Homo sapiens: one gene and its partners. The gene in region 2 interacts genetically with the main gene of each other region. Each region holds a gene or a part of one and is shown on either strand. Other genes may lie near its edges. The genes, in order: DBH, TPSAB1 and CAMK2G.

What was found.
Region 1: changes in TPSAB1 (region 2) and DBH together harm fitness more than expected from each alone (negative genetic interaction), as found in Homo sapiens cells (one large-scale study listed by BioGRID).
Region 3: changes in TPSAB1 (region 2) and CAMK2G together harm fitness more than expected from each alone (negative genetic interaction), as found in Homo sapiens cells (one large-scale study listed by BioGRID).

Annotation. Positions count from the first base shown.
Region 1 is NC_000009.12:133,642,727-133,646,372, forward strand, and holds part of DBH (dopamine beta-hydroxylase precursor), read left to right. Parts: intron 1-686; coding exon 687-863; intron 864-1,491; coding exon 1,492-1,594; intron 1,595-3,646. UniProt on the Homo sapiens protein: Catalyzes the hydroxylation of dopamine to noradrenaline (also known as norepinephrine), and is thus vital for regulation of these neurotransmitters.
Region 2 is NC_000016.10:1,239,510-1,243,174, forward strand, and holds TPSAB1 (tryptase alpha/beta-1 precursor), read left to right. Parts: upstream 1-1,195; 5' UTR 1,196-1,219; intron 1,220-1,429; coding exon 1,430-1,490; intron 1,491-1,643; coding exon 1,644-1,815; intron 1,816-1,924; coding exon 1,925-2,190; intron 2,191-2,317; coding exon 2,318-2,481; intron 2,482-2,566; coding exon 2,567-2,731; 3' UTR 2,732-3,045; downstream 3,046-3,665. UniProt on the Homo sapiens protein: Tryptase is the major neutral protease present in mast cells and is secreted upon the coupled activation-degranulation response of this cell type. May play a role in innate immunity.
Region 3 is NC_000010.11:73,818,966-73,822,611, reverse strand, and holds part of CAMK2G (calcium/calmodulin-dependent protein kinase type II subunit gamma), read left to right. Parts: intron 1-881; coding exon 882-930; intron 931-2,966; coding exon 2,967-3,080; intron 3,081-3,646.

The DNA of each region.
Region 1 (3,646 bases), on a different chromosome or scaffold from region 2:
ATCTTTCCTTGGGACTGGAACTGCTGTCTGTCTGCCAGGCCACCTCCCCCTTCATGAAAAAGCAGCTCGAGTCAGAACTCACTTGCTCTCGAACACCCGTCCGGGGAAGACAGAATAGCAAAGGCGATAGCTGTCGAGTGTCCACTATGCCACTAGTCCCGGGGGAGGGGCGAGGTGATCCCTCCTTCATCATAAGAGCCCCTAGTTTCCAGCAGAGGAAGTGTGGCCCAGGGAGGTTGAGTGTCCAGGGTCACATAGCAAGAAGGGGCATGTCCTTGAAGGTGCACTCAGAGAGGTTATGTGAGTGTCCAGAGTCACACAGCAGGAAGAGGCATGGCCTTGAAGGTGCGCTTTGGGCCCGGGCTCTAACCTCAGGGCTGCCCTGCCTCCCACTGGGGCTGCAGGAGCTGGCCCGGCCACAGCCCCATATGCATGAGGACGGCTGCGTCCTGTCCCTGCCTTGGCCTGTACGAACCTCATTTCCTTCACTCTGGAGCTGCCTACGGGATTTCTTTCTGGGCTGATGGCTCCACCCTCAAGGCTGTGAACCCCAGAAGTGCCCCTGAAATTGTCTGGATCATCCCTCCCATTTTACAGATGGGCATTCGGAAGCCCATGGAGGAGGGCTGCTGGGGAGGGGAGGGTGGGCGGCCGGTTCCCGGGCTCAGAGGGCTGCCTCCTCACAGTACGAGCCCATCGTCACCAAGGGCAATGAGGCCCTTGTCCACCACATGGAAGTCTTCCAGTGCGCCCCCGAGATGGACAGCGTCCCCCACTTCAGCGGGCCCTGCGACTCCAAGATGAAACCCGACCGCCTCAACTACTGCCGCCACGTGCTGGCCGCCTGGGCCCTGGGTGCCAAGGTGCGTGCCCTGCGACCCCAGCATGGTGTCTCCTGCCTGGGCCCCTGGCATCCCCACACCTCTGTTTCCCCAGCTTCACCGTCTCAGAGGCTTCAAGAAGGGGCTCCCAAGGGGGCTCACGAGGCCACCAGAAGGGCCAGGCCTGAGGTGGCCCCCTCGCCTCTGTGATGTCTGAAATGCTTCAAGCCTTTTTTTTATTTTCCACAGAAACGCAAGTGCCGCAGGACCTTATGCCCTCAGTGGGTCCTGATTCTGTTTCCCAACTGGAGTCAGGGTTTTGTGTACAGGTGGTCCCAGGGCTGGCTGGCGGTGGGGCCAGTGTTGAGGCCTCCACAGGCTGAGACGATGGGGGTCTCCCCAGCTCTTACACCCGTCTAGAGAAGGGGTTTTGGGGGAAGGCTCAGCCCTAGGCACCAGCTCCTCTCCCCAACTCCCTGACCCGAGTCTCACAGGATGTTCCTGGGGCGTGTAATGAGCTGCCTGTCAGGAGGAAGCATCGCTCTAATCCTGCTGCGCCCCCTCCACCACCCCTGAGGCTCAGGCCCCAACAGTTGACTGGGTTTGCCCCTGCCCAGACCTGGGGCCCTCTCAGGACACACCCGTCTGTCTGACACCTTGCCCCACACAGGCATTTTACTACCCAGAGGAAGCCGGCCTTGCCTTCGGGGGTCCAGGGTCCTCCAGATATCTCCGCCTGGAAGTTCACTACCACAACCCACTGGTGATAGAAGGTAGGCGGCTCTGCTGCCATCCTCCTCAGAAGCCCTAGGACTCAGCTGTGTTGAGCCAGTGAGCAAATCCCGCCCTTCGTCTGCCCAGCATGGTGCCCCCGCTGTACAGCTCCTCTTGGCACGAGGCCCTTGCGTCTGCCTCATCCGCTGTCCATCTTCCATGGCTGTGGTGGGCTCCCAGGGACAGGACCTCGAGGGGCTCACTCCTCACAGCTTCGCCAGGGCCCAGCAGTGGCCCCACACCTCCCTCCTCGTCCCTATAATACGGGCTGCCATCGGCGCAGCACTGTGCATCCCAGGGGAAAGGACAAGGAGAATTTTCATAAGGGAAGCTGCCAGATGCCAAGTTCCAAATACAGGGAGAGGTGTGTGCATAAACAGGGAGGTGGTAGTAAAGCAGGGCATATTCCAGGACACAGGCGCTCCGGCCTGGCCAGAGTGCAGGGACGGGAAGGGGAGCTGGGGCAGCTGCTGTTGGATCACCCATACCTGAGGGTGGAGTGAGCAGGGTCAGCTTTTAGCATGGCAAGGCCAGGTGATGCTGTCTCAGAAACTGAAAAAAATACTTCCCTCTCTCTGTTGCACCAGCATCTTTCACCATATATAGACACACACGCACACAATGCACACACACACGCACACACACATGCACACATGTACACATATGCACGCAGAAGCACACACATGCACACACTTTTTCTCTCTCTCTGAATGGTGCTTCTTCTTTTCATTTGTGCAAGGTGCAGAAGTGGCCTAAGAGATAGGTGCTAGGCTGTGCCTCACCACCTTGGGGACGCTGGGTGGATGACCTCACCCGCTGCCTGTTCTCCCACCTCCCACAGCTATTGTGAAGCTGGGAAAGGCTCACGCACAGAACTTGCTGTGGGCACGGGGCTGTGCTCAGCTAACAGTCGCCTGTGGTTTTTTTTTTTTTTCCTGGCTGCATAAGTAATACCTTCCGCCACTGTTGGAGTTATCTCCACATGCACAGAGAAGGGTATAAGTCAGCTTGGGCCTTAGCATGACACGGGATTTATTGCTCATTTAAACCCTGAAAGCAAATGGATTTTTGAAAACTCCTGAAGCATCAGGGAAGTCTGTCTCTTCATGATTATCTGGTTGTATTTATGGATCCTTTGCCAAATATAAGGACGCTCCTGTCACTTCACCCATCTTGAGATGGGCTGCTTTTCTATAAATATCAAAATCCCACAATTATTTCATGATTTAATCCCCATCTGAATTTTAACCAATTGCAACACCCTTTTTATTATTATCCTCTGATGTAATCAGCCTGGAGATACAGGAGCCGTTTGAGTTTGGATGGTGTAGGGGTGTCGAGGGAAGAAGGCAGAGGCAAGAGGAGTTGTTTTGGCCTCATCTTAAAGGAAACAAGTAGGGAGATGGTTGGGCCCCCTGGAAGTGCCCTGCACCCCAGTCCACAGCCCTGGGTTTGAACCTCAGCTTGGCCACTTCCCAGCCCTGTGGTCTTGTGTGGAGTCTTCAGTTCAGGCTCCATCCTCAGTTTCTTAATCTGTGAAATAGGGCTGATGATTCTCACTGTGCAAAACTTCCATGAAAGGGGTAGGTTATGCTTAGAGCATTTTTGGCACCCAGGGAAGATGTTAGTATCTGTACCACCCTCTTGGTTTGATCAGAAAGGGCAATGCATGTACACTGGTGAGAAGATGGACAGCAGAAAAGCATGAAGAAGATGAAACCACCCCCCAGCTCCCGGCTCCAAGTTTTGAAGTGAGCACTGGTCACCCAGCTATGTGTCTGTCCTGACTGCTTTTCTGGCCCATTAATTTTTTTCTTGTGACTAGAATTTTATATCTTTTTTTTTCATTGTTGTTTGTTTTTTTACTTAAACTTCATCAGAAGCCTCTTCCCTGTGAATTAAAACCCCTTGTCAATTTCACACTCCTTGCCGCCTGACATCCCTTTCCTGTACATAACCCAGGGGGCAGAGCCTCCTGCTGCACAGCCCCTCCAGACCACCCCGCCATGTCCGCCATGTCCACCATGTCCACCATGCATCCGGGGGCATGG
Region 2 (3,665 bases):
ATGAGCAGGAGCGGTCTGGGCCACCCCTGCCTGTCCCCCGGGGGGTGCAGCCCGGAAGGAGTCCAGATGGATATGGCCCCGCAGTGCAGAGTCAGCCCCAAACCAGGCTGGTCCCAGGCAGGGTGGGGGCAGGAGGAGCCCCGGAGTGGCCCTGTGTTGGGGGTCGGGGGGCAGGCAGGGGGTCCTGGGGCTCAGAAGCGGAGGAGGTGGGCTGGAGGCCCCAGTGACCAACAGGCCCAGGGGAGTCGGGAGGTGGGGTGGACGGACCTGCAGGGACAGTGTCAGCGCTGAATGGGATGGAGAGCACAGGGAGCTGGGGCCGGGGATGAGACCATGGGGAGCTGGGGCTGGGGCTGGGACTAGTCCATGGGGAGCTGGGGCTGAAGTTGGGGGTGAGTCCATGGGGAGCTGGGCTGGGCCTCCTGGGGTTGCACCTGCACTCCTCTCTGCTCTTCCCTCTGCGTATGAAGCTCAGATCCCATGATAAGGAGGCACCTGCAGACCAGGGGACCTGCACGGACAGCCCCAGAGGTGGACATTGAGGACTCGTAGGAGGACTTGGGTCTCATACGGCGGGTGGGGAGCAGGGCCCCTTCCTGGCTGAGGACACTTGGTGCTGTCCCCTCTCAAGGCTGTTTCCCCATCTGACAAAGGGGTCTCACGTGAGCCCCCAACCAAGTGAGTCGAGGAGGGCTGGCCCCACCCCCGTGGATTCGGAGTCCGTAGGAGGGGTGTCACCCGTCATGTCCCCACCCCGTGGGCACCTTCCCGTCTCTTGGAGCGTGGCCCATGGACATGAGTTCCTCACCCGTGTCCCTCTTGGGGAAACAGGTTTCAGGAGCGACGGGTCTTGTAGCCTGGGGCAGCCAGGCCACCTGGGTGCAGCAATGCCTGAAGGCCTCCTGGCACCGAGACAGGGGCAGGAGCAGATCCCACCAGCGGGAAGGTGGTGGGTTCCAGTGCTGGGATCCACCAGCTGACAGGTGGAGCTGCCAGTCTCCAGTGCTCAGCCCTCAGCGGGGCCTGCCTGGCAGCCCCACACACAGAGGGCATCGGGGTGGCGGGGGCACGTGTTACACGGGGGCCCTGGGTCTGAGTCATCCACTTCCTCCGAGTCTGGATGGGAGGACCCAGCGCCCCTCCTCCGCCCCCTCCTGATCTGGAAGGATAAATGGGGAGGGGAGAGCCCACTGGGTAGAAGGAACAGGGAGCGGCCAGGGTAAGTCCCCACTCTCAGAGACCCTGACATCAGCGTCACCTGGAGCAGAGTGGCCCAGCCTCAGACTCAGAGCACCAAGACCCAGGCCCGCAGGCCTGGACCCACCCCGGTCCCCCCGTCCCAGCTCCATTCTTCACCCCACAATCTGTAGCCCCCAGCCCTGCCCTGTGAGGCCCGGCCAGGCCCACGATGCTCCTCCTTGCTCCCCAGATGCTGAATCTGCTGCTGCTGGCGCTGCCCGTCCTGGCGAGCCGCGCCTACGCGGCCCCTGGTGAGTCCCAGCCGGGGTCCACCCTGCCCCTCACCACATTCCACAGGTCAGGGCCTGGGTGGGTTCTGGGGAGGTCGGGCTGGCCCCCACACAGGGAAGGGCTGGGCCCAGGCCTGGGGCTGCTTCCTGGTCCTGACCTGGCACCTGCCCCAGCCCCAGGCCAGGCCCTGCAGCGAGTGGGCATCGTCGGGGGTCAGGAGGCCCCCAGGAGCAAGTGGCCCTGGCAGGTGAGCCTGAGAGTCCACGGCCCATACTGGATGCACTTCTGCGGGGGCTCCCTCATCCACCCCCAGTGGGTGCTGACCGCAGCGCACTGCGTGGGACCGTGAGTCTCCCGGGGCCTGGAGGGGTGGGGAAGGGCTGGATGTGAGCCCTGGCTCCCGGGTGCTCCTGGGGGCTGCCCAGGGCCCTGAGTGGGATCCTCCGCTGCCCAGGGACGTCAAGGATCTGGCCGCCCTCAGGGTGCAACTGCGGGAGCAGCACCTCTACTACCAGGACCAGCTGCTGCCGGTCAGCAGGATCATCGTGCACCCACAGTTCTACACCGCCCAGATCGGAGCGGACATCGCCCTGCTGGAGCTGGAGGAGCCGGTGAACGTCTCCAGCCACGTCCACACGGTCACCCTGCCCCCTGCCTCAGAGACCTTCCCCCCGGGGATGCCGTGCTGGGTCACTGGCTGGGGCGATGTGGACAATGATGGTGGGTCTGGGGACAGTGGAGGTGGGGCCAGGGTCTTAGCCACAGCCCAGCCCCTGGGCTCCCTCTGGGCTCCAGGTGGGGGTTGCCCGGCCCCCTCCTGAGGCTGCACCCTCTTCCCCACCTGCAGAGCGCCTCCCACCGCCATTTCCTCTGAAGCAGGTGAAGGTCCCCATAATGGAAAACCACATTTGTGACGCAAAATACCACCTTGGCGCCTACACGGGAGACGACGTCCGCATCGTCCGTGACGACATGCTGTGTGCCGGGAACACCCGGAGGGACTCATGCCAGGTGGGCCCCGCCTGTCCCCCGCCCCCCGCCCCCCAACCCCCACTCCCAGGCCTGTTCGGCGAGCGCTGACCTCTGACCTTCCCAGGGCGACTCCGGAGGGCCCCTGGTGTGCAAGGTGAATGGCACCTGGCTGCAGGCGGGCGTGGTCAGCTGGGGCGAGGGCTGTGCCCAGCCCAACCGGCCTGGCATCTACACCCGTGTCACCTACTACTTGGACTGGATCCACCACTATGTCCCCAAAAAGCCGTGAGTCAGGCCTGGGTTGGCCACCTGGGTCACTGGAGGACCAACCCCTGCTGTCCAAAACACCACTGCTTCCTACCCAGGTGGCGACTGCCCCCCACACCTTCCCTGCCCCGTCCTGAGTGCCCCTTCCTGTCCTAAGCCCCCTGCTCTCTTCTGAGCCCCTTCCCCTGTCCTGAGGACCCTTCCCTATCCTGAGCCCCCTTCCCTGTCCTAAGCCTGACGCCTGCACCGGGCCCTCCAGCCCTCCCCTGCCCAGATAGCTGGTGGTGGGCGCTAATCCTCCTGAGTGCTGGACCTCATTAAAGTGCATGGAAATCACTGGTGTGCATCGCTGTGTTTCTGGTTGTGGATGTCACTGGGAGAGAAGGGGTCCAGGTGTGCTGAGGACACCTGCCACAGTGTGAGGTCCTAGCCCTCAAGGCACAGCCAGTCACCGTGGGACGGGGCCTCCTGGGCAGCCCTGGTCCCCGAGGCTGGCTTCTCCCCACACGATGCATCCAGCATTCGGGTCACACAGAGCCACTCGGGCAACTCAGTTGATTATAAAGGACAGCCAGGTCCCTGCAACCGGGTCAAGACAGAGAATGGTCGCCGGGAGCCCCAGGGCTGCCCATCATGAGCCCCTACCCCACGCTTCCCACGAGCTCTTCTCCCGGCCCCTCTGTCCACTGCTTGTGCTTTGCCTAGTTGTTTGCTTTGAGACGGGATCTCGCTGTGTCATCCAGGCTGAAGTGCAGTGGTGTGATCAGGGCTCACTGCAGCCTTAACTCCTGGGCTCAAGCGATCCTCCCATCTTGGCCTCCCATATAGCTGGGCCACAGGCGTGAGCCACCACGCCCAGTTAATTTTTGTATTTTCAGTAGAGATGGGGTTTCGCCATGTTGGCCAGTCTGGTCTCGAACTCCTGACCTCAAGTGATCCGCCCGCCTCGGCCTCCC
Region 3 (3,646 bases), on a different chromosome or scaffold from region 2:
GGGCCTGCTACAGAGGCCCTTGTAGGAGTTTGCATTTTCTTCCAGCAGCAAGGAGAAGCTATTGGGAGTTCTTAGCAGGAGTAACAGAATCTAGTTGACACTTTAAAACACCACTCTGGCCTCATGATCAAGAACTCTAGGGAGGCCCGGGCGTGGTGGCTCACGCCCGTAATCCCTGCACTTTGGAAGGCCGAGGCGAGTGGATCAGCAAAGGTCAGGAGCTCGAGACCAGCCTGGCCAACATGATGAAACCCCATCTCTAATAAAAATACAAAAATTAGCCAGGCATGGTGGCAGGCACCTGTAATCCCAGCTACTCAGGAGGCTGAGACAGGAGAATCACTTGAACCCGGGAGGCAGAGGTTGCAGTGAGCCGAGATCATGCCATTGCACTCCAGCCTGTGCAACAAGAGCAAAACTCTGTTTCAAAAAAGAAAAACTCTAGGGAGGAGGTAAGTGTGGAAGTTAGGGAGACCATGAAGCTGTTATCATGGTTCAGGTGTGAGATGCTGGTGGCCTGGAGTCAGGTTGTAGCTGTGCATTGGAAGTGAAGAGGTAAGACATGGGGTTTACTTTGGAGGCAGAACCAGAAGATTTTATTTTAGATTGGGCGATCTGAATATAAGGGAAAAAGAGAAAGAGAAGGATTGAGGATGACTCCAGGTTTTAGCCTGAGTAACTGGGTAGATGGTGGCATTTACCAACTGGGGGAAGACTAGGGAGGGGATTTGGGAAGAGTCAGACAGCCAGGGTGGAAGCAGAACCTTCCACAATTCCTCCTTGCACCTCTTGTAGGAGCAGAAACTCTGCTTTTGTTCTGCTTTGCTCCTCTGGCTTCCAAGGGATGGAGCATATAGAAACATGTTCTTTTTGGCCTACAGGGCTCCACAGAGAGCTGCAACACCACCACAGAAGATGAGGACCTCAAAGGTAGGTGCTGGCCCTTGGAGGGGGAAGGACTCCAGCAGTGACCCAGGTACCTGGGCTCCAATGGGGCACCTGCCTTTTCTGTCCCCAGAACTGGGAATGCTGGCTCCTATGCCCCTAGGAGAGGGCTTGGTATAAAAGCTACTTTCCACGAGCCAAGATATGAGGCCCCTGTCTGGTGTTGCTGAGTTGGGCAAGAGGCTTCTCTTCTTTGACCCCAAGTCTAAAATAGCTAAGCTAGAGATTCTCCAGGGGCCAGGGCTCAGAGAACTGTTCCTGTTGCTGATAATGATGTGCCATCCAAGAACAGGGGTACCCCAAGTCCCTGCCGAAGTAGCCTGTAAGTGCTATGAGTCATAAATAGAGTGACCAATCACTCCTGGTTTTCCTCGGACACAGAACTTTTGGTTTTAAGACTGTGATGGGCCAGGAGTGCTGGCTCACACCTGTAATACCCAGAACTTTGGGAGGGCCAGGGCAGAAGGATTGCTTGAGACCAGGAGTTTGAGACAAGCTTGGGCAACATAGCAAGACCTTGTCTCTATTAAAAAAAAAAAATTAGGAACAAATAAATAGGCCAGGTGCGGTGACTCACACCTGTAATCCCCACACTTTGGGAGGCCGAGGCAAGTGGATCACTTGAGGTCAGGAGTTCAAAACCAGCCTGGCCAACATGATGAAACCCCGTCTCTACTAAAAATACAAAAAAAGGCCGGGCGTAGTGGCTCACGCCTGTAATCCCAACACTTTGGGAGGCCAAGGTGGGTGGATCACCTGAAGGTCAGAAGTTCAAGACCAGCCTGGCCAACATGGTGAAACTCCATCTCTACTAAAAATATAAAAAATTAGCCAGGTGTGGTGGCAGGTGCCTGTAATCGTAGCTACTCGGGAGGCGGAGGTGGGAGAATCGCTTGAACCTGGGAGGTGGAGGTTGCAGTGAGCCGAGATCACCCCATTGCACTCCAGCCTGGGCAACAAGAGCGAAACTTCTTCTCAAAAAAAAAAAAAAAAAAAAAAAAAATTAGCCGGGTGTGGTGGCGGGGTCCTGTAATCCCAGCTACTCGGGAGACTGAGGCATGAAAATGGCTTGAACCCGGGAGGTGGAGGTTGCAGTGAGCTGAGATTGCACCACTGCACTCCAGCCTGGGTGACAGAGCGAGACTCTGTCTCAAGAAAAAAAAAAAAAAAAAAATATATATATATATATATATATATATATAAATATAAAACCCAGATAGTCCTGGGAACACTGGGATGAGTTGGTCACTCTAGTCCTAAGATTTTGGCCTGAATGATGGAGTTGGAACTAATCTGACAACCGTGAGGCCACATTTGGTCATGTCCTGGTGGGCCCGTAAGGACCACTAGCCTAAGCTTGGGCCTGGCTAGAGTGCCAGGGCGGTGGGAGGGCATGGCAGGCTGGACCCCCGGGAATCTCTGTCCTGCTCTTTGATTGGGCCTCCTGGAATTGCTCCCTTTGCCTGAATTCAGTAAGTGACCTTGGGCCAGGACATCAGAAAAGACAGAGGAACACTCTAGGACAGAGCTGGGAGAGCATGCCCTGGGTGGCAAGGGGGCACCAAACCTTTTGGAACCAAAAAAAATAGCAGAAAGCTGCGAGGAAGTGAATCATAGTAGCTCCAGGCCCCTGTGAGTGAGGTCAGATCAGTTTTGATTCCGGCACTGCTGGCAACATAGGAGGCGCTGTCACTGCTGGGCTCTGGACCCTGTGGCCTGGCCCCCTGGAACATCTTCCCCGGGATCAGGGGTCCTTGGACAGGCTGTTGTAAGGCTCGTCTGGAAGCCACAGCCCAGGTCTGGGCACCTGCCTGGTGCCCTCAGCTGGGAGGCCTCTCTGGCAGAGGCGGCGGCGTGGGATGTCGTCCAGTGTCCACAGCAGCCTGAGGCGAGGCGTCCCCTTGCCCCGGCTCTGCAGCGCCATGGGCTCGGGGCCTGTCTGGCTTGCTCGCTCACCTGCCTTGTTCTGTTTGTTTTGGCTGCTCTGCCTTGCCCTGCCCTGCCCTGCCCTGGCTGGCTAGCTGCCCCGCTCCGCACTGGGAATGGCAGCTCGGTGCCTGAAGGACGGAGCTCCCGGGACAGAACAGCCCCCTCTGCAGGCATGCAGCCCCAGCCTTCTCTCTGCTCCTCAGCCAGTAAGTGTGAGGGAGGCACATTCTGGCTTCCGTCTCCCTGGCTCGTCCTGAAGCCCCTCAGGGACCCCCACCACAGCTGTCAGTCCCACCCACCTGCCCGTGGTAGTAAGCTCTGGGAGCATGGCCTCTGCTGGGGGTGGGGGGTAGACTGGAGGTGCTGTTGAGACCAGGCAGGGGCCCCTGAGTCTGGGGCCCAAAGAAATATGAGAAGTGTGGGTGGAAAAACATGGCCTGGGATGAGGGGAGTAGAAAGCCCCCAGGATGTGCAGTGGGCCTTGCCTCAGCGCTGAGCCAGGAAGAAGGGCAGAGTCGGAAGTCAGGTCTGTGGGGGTGGGAGTGGGATGATGGGGAAATCGTGACAGCGAGGAACTGTGTTGGGGATGTAGTGCTTCCTGAGTCTCAGCATAACAGTATTAAGAGCATGGGGTCAGAGGCAAGATAGATCTGAGTTTAAATCCCAGCTACACTGCCTTCAAGAGTGTGAAGTTTAACCTCCCAGAGCTGCAGGTTCCTTATCTGTAATGTGGAAATAAAATGGCACGCACCTCAGAGCCTTGTTAGATAAA